2 separate regions of the Homo sapiens genome follow, and region 1 is linked to region 2. Evidence: fine-mapped expression QTL. Tissue or cell type: whole blood. Region 2 holds a variant in brackets; the other region holds the start of a gene. All regions are shown on one strand. Distances are from middle to middle.

Region 1 (2,500 bases), 55 kb after region 2:
CCTGAAATCTTTCTTAAACATCTGCCTCTTGGGCAAGCTGCAGTGTCCCACAGAAAAAGGAAATGAAGCAACAGTAATGGAGTATCCTTTACACCTCATCTGGGCCCCTCACTACTGCAGTCTAACTGCGTATCTCACCGACACTTCCCACACTTCTCTAGAGGATTAGGAGGGAATATACTATCTCAGACAGCTTCTGGTGAACAGTTAACACTTATCCAGAACCAACCACCTGCCCAAACTGCTAGTCACTTGACACACTTCATTTAATGTGTACTAACGCCGCCCTGGATGAAACTGAGCTCACAATAAATTAAATAACTTGGCCAAGGTCACACAATTAAAGCGGAAAACGCCATGATTTGAAAAGGCACGTCTGGGGCTCTAAAATCCCTCATGTTTACCCCCAACACATGCTGGAGAGTCAAACTCCAATTGGTAGAATCTGCGTGAAATGGAATACTTTTCAGACAACCCAAACAACGAGCATCTGTCAAATATTTTACAATCGGGAAAGTGTAACCTCGCTGCATGCAACTTCCCTCCCTGGACGTGTTAAGTAACCTGTTAAATTTCCCAACCCAGATCATAGCCCCCCAACCCCCTGCACCATGGTTTCTCTAAACGCCTTTATAGCCCCGCGCTCTCTAATCTCGAGCTCAAGTGAGGCTGCCTATGGGGCTCTGGCAGATGACAAACGACAAGGAGGCCGAAAGCCAGATGTCTTCGAATTGAGGGAGAAGGCCGGACCTCTGACTCGGGTCACACTGGGGACCCCCACAAACCATCCCTTTTAGACAAGTGACCCCGGGGGTCACCTTGACCCCTGCAGTGAGCCAGACCAAACTTCCACGCCAGGCCAGCCCCCGCCAGGTGAGCAGGTACACAAAAAGAAGCCTCAGTGACCACCGTACGCTGGTGTGGAGAGGCCCCGGGAGGTGCAAGGAGAACAGAGACGAACTCGACCGCGGGCAGAAGCCTCCCCTGGCTCCAACGCCGCGACTGCCTGTCGCCGAGGCTAGGGCCGCCACTTCTCATGTCCGAGCTGGCCAGGCGCCACTCGTACCTGCGGGCTATAGGCCTCCGAAGCCCATGCTCCTGCCAACTTCTGCGTGAAGCCACTAAACTTGTAGTACATGACGCCCAGAGTCCGGCTTCCCGCATCCGCTGCCAACGCGACCGCCCCAGAGAAGGACCCCGCCTCCCCGGCTGTGGTCCCGAGACTCAGCGCAAGGACCCGGTGCTGGGACTAGGGCTGCCCGAAGATCGCCTAACTTAAAACCTGCACACTTAAGCCGCATTGGGGAACCAAAAGCCAGGGTTCTCAGGACCACGAAAGGCAAAACCAGCTCTAAGAGAGCACGCAAAGTCGCTGTGGCGGAGTCTGTAGGAAATATGAAGTTCCCTCTTTCCCCCATTCAGATTTGGGCAGTGCCACGACAACTCAAGAAATGCGCAAGCGCTCCACGGACTAAGCCCGGCGGACTAAGCCCGGCAGTGTCGGAGTCAGGTGGAGCATGCTTTAGGAGGGGCGGGCTCCAGGCGGGGCCTGGGGGGGAGAGGGCGGTGATTGGTGGGCGTGGTCTGGGTAGGGGCGGGGCTACATCGAAGCCGGTTGGGAATTCCACCATCCGAGAGAGTCTGTGCTGCGGAGCCACCGTCTGGTCGTCGGGTTGAAGGCGTCTCTTGCTTTACCGAACTTTAACTGATCGTAGTCTCATTTATTTCCTTCCGACCTAGAGCACCTCTTATCCAGAAGCCACCACCTGCTGTTGCTCAGTCTGCCCAGGAGTATAGACTTGTCGGCCAAGCTTCCCCTGGCAACCTGGGAGTTGAAGCAAATAAGAAAATTTGGAAGCACCTGCTGAAGGCTGTTTAGTACCCAGGGCTGTTGGGAGATTTGCCCCAATAATATAAAAGTAGCCTCCTGGGCTTTGTGCAGAGGAAATACACATGCAGAGTGATCTAAAGCTCAGGTACCAGGATGTAAATGTCACACGGTTTCTCAGAACTGGTTTTTATTCTCACCTGAGTTTTAAGGTCATTGATTATTCATCCTTTTCCTGGCCTCTGCTCTTTGCGATAAATGAGGTAGGGGGAGGGTGATCAGAAACACTTGTAAAATCTGGACCTTGAGCCTGAAAGATCTGGAACTACCACTTTCAGTTCTGGTAGTATTCGCTTCAGTTCAATTTAAATATGTCTGTTAAGCCTGTGCTGTGTGCAAGGTACTGTGTAAAAGGAGTATACTAGTTTCTTACTCTCCAGGGATGGACTCAGGCTTTTCTTAGCTTCATCATCTAACCATAGGTTTACACAAGCATATTCTAGATGCACTTATGAAATCATGTTGCAAATTGATGGATGATACTAACCTATATATAGCATTGCCCTAAACTCATTTAATCTTCACAACAATCCTATAAGGTAAATGCTATTATCATCTCCATTTTAGAATACAGGAAAATGACGCCTGGAGAAGCTAAGTAACTTGCTCAGG
Region 2 (2,845 bases):
GTTGAACCTGGGAGACAGTTGCAGTGAGCCGAGATTGTGCCACTGCGCTCCAGCATGGGCAACAGAGCAAGACTCCATCTCAAAAAAAATAATAAGGCGAGTTGCAGTAGCCCACGCCAGTAATTCCAGTGCTTTGGGAGGCTGAGGCAGGAAGATTGCTTGAGGCCAGGAGTTTGAGACCAGCCTGGGTGAGACACCATCTCTACAAAAAATAAAAATAATAAACATTATCACGAATTATATTAGAAAATGTTAAGAACCATGTGAGGATAGGGAAAATGATGGGAGATTAAGAGGGAGTGCAGTTGCAAAATGATAGAGTGGTCATTATGGGCTTCATTGAAAAGGAGTTGCAGATTTGACTTTTCCTTTGTGAAATGAGAAGAATCAGAAAATTTCTCTCCTCATCTTTTATGCAGGGGAAGGATTTGAAGCTGATGTAACACCATTGAGCATTTATAAGTTGTTTGTGCTATACCTTTTGCCATCCTGTCTTTTTTAAATGCTACGCAGATATATAATAAAGATATATTTTCTAAAATAATTTAAGACCTGTCTTGCAGACCTTGTATAGTACCTAAGGTTAACATGTTTATGATTTATATATCTTTAATTGACTCAACTTTATTGCCTCTGCTAGTAAGTAGTCCTTCTCACATTTTTTAAGGAGACAAAAACATGAAGTCAATTTTCCCAAAATTAAACTCATTAAAAAATGTGGAATGCTGATTTTTAATGGGGTGAGACTATTGTGAACATGCTTATGTAAATATTTTTGTTTCTATATAAGACTTAAATACTTTAAACCAACTAATTCATTTAATTCTAACTAAATTTAGTCATTTAGAGGGGGTTTTTTTATAGCGATTTTTCCTTCTGGCTGTTAGATACAAATTAACACCTGAAATGTGAAAACATTCCAATTTCTTCTTACATATAGTGCTGCAGAATCTTTCAGAATAATGGAAAAATAGGTCTTTAAAGATAATTGAATTATGAATGTGAAACTAGAGATGCTATTGAGTGAAATCATTGAATTTTTAGAATTAGGCTGCTTGAGAGAGCATTTGGTGATACTTTGCAAATATAGAAGGCTAGCTCAGATCTTCCCCAAAACACGTAAGTAATAGATCATGATGAGGTTTAAAAGCACTTAGACTTGGACATTTGTCCATTTGGACCGAGTTTGGTCCATTCTCTTTGAGAAAGACACATGACAGGTAACTGTAGGATTTGGAGGAAATTATTTTCTTCAACCAAAAAAAATGGTTAAGCACACAGGAAACCATCTGAGGTGTAGTGCTGATCCAGTTTTCAGAAAACCACAAAGGAATTCACTTCAGATCTTTATTTTTGGCAGCTAAACAGATATCACAAATGCTAAAGTCCTTGAAATAATAAAAGTAAGAGATATCATTTATTCAGTGTCTGATGACCTTGTGCTAAATCCTTTTTTTTTTTTTTTTTTTTTTTTTTGAGATAGAGTCTCGCTCTGTCACCCAAGCT[G/A]GAGTGCAATGGCATGATCTTGGCTCACAGCAAGTTCCGCCTCCTGGGTTCACGCCATTCTCCTGCCTCAGCCTCCAAAGTAGCTGGGACTACAGGCGCCCTGCCACCACGCCTGGCTAATTTTTTTTTTTTTTTGTATTTTTAGTAGAGACAGAGTTTCACCGTGTTAGCCAGGATGGTCTCAATCTGACCTCGTGATCCTCCCGCCTCGGCCTCCCAAAGTGCTAGGATTACAGGTGTGAGCCACCGCACCTGGCCGCTAAATTCTTTTTATATGTTACTCTTCACAAGAATGTAACATAGTGTTTATTAATATCGTGATTGCACAGACAGGAAACCAAGACCCATAGAGTTCTGTTACCTGTGATTGAGCTCAGGTTCTGCATGGTTCCAAAGCTTGTCCTTTCCTCTAATCCAACAGTACTCTTTGAGATATTTACAGCATTAATTAGAAATATTGTTAGGAAGGTTTATCTTTGACAATTAAATCACTGATTGACATTGTTAAAGCATACTATGTATACAAGGGAGTTAAACACTAAATGGGCGATTGTAAGGCTAGCGGGGTTTGAATCATGAAGATAAACTGCTTTGGTTGAAGAAAACACTGTGTGTTTACAAATAGACATACACGGCCCCAATTTGTAGGGAAAATTGTTCTGAAAAACTCACTGAAATTACTTTCCAGCATTTACATAGCTGTGAAGTCATCATTGACAAGCTTAAAATGGAAAGTCACTCAATTTTAGTGACTTAAACTAAAGGTAAGCCAATTGGTTTCTCTTGGAGTTGTAAGTAGAAAACACTTCATGAGAGTGATGTGATAACTAAATTGAAAGTGCTGGCAGTCCATTTGGGGATTGATTAGAATCTAGGGGAGATGTAGTTGTCAGTGTTCATTCTGTATGTAACTCCTGTCTTTGGTTTCAGATCTGGTTAGGTTCTGTTGATCCTTGGGGAACTTTCTCATTTGTTTTTATTTTTGCCTTGGATCTATGAATACCTGAATGTATTGTCTAAAATGGAAAAATCTTAATGTAGCCATTCTATTACTATCACTGACCCTAGGCCTGAAAAAAGTCACACCTAGGGTTAAGAAATTTTTATTTTATTTTATTTTATTTACTTATTTAGAGACAGTTTCCCTCTTTTGCCCAGGCTGGAGTGCAATGGCATGATCCCAGTTCACTGTAACCTCTGCCTCCCAGGCTCAAGCGATTCTTTAGCCTCAAGCCTCCTGAGTAGCTGGGATTACAGGCGCCCACCACCATACCCAGCTAATTTTTGTATTTCTAGTAGAGACAGGGTTTCGCCATGTTGGCCAGGCTGGTCTGGAACC

What was found. PIP is the estimated chance that this variant, and not a neighbour inherited with it, causes the effect.
Region 1: COX7A2L starts here. The variant in region 2 is fine-mapped to the expression of COX7A2L in whole blood (TOPMed, PIP 0.95).

The regions. Positions count from the first base shown.
Region 1 is chr2:42,360,024-42,362,523 of GRCh38, forward strand. It overlaps COX7A2L (cytochrome c oxidase subunit 7A2 like), which reads right to left and starts at 1,194. Exons shown (of 3, transcript NM_004718.4): 1 at 1,067-1,194. The coding sequence starts at 1,138. RefSeq lists enhancers at 367-1,111, 885-1,204, 1,112-1,855, 1,225-1,284, 1,845-1,934 and a silencer at 1,485-1,654.
Region 2 is chr2:42,305,035-42,307,879 of GRCh38, forward strand. All of the region lies in intron 17 of EML4 (EMAP like 4), which reads left to right. Among named protein-coding and RNA genes, the nearest start is that of COX7A2L, 55 kb to the right of the region's middle. The variant G/A (reference allele first, on the strand shown) is at 1,507.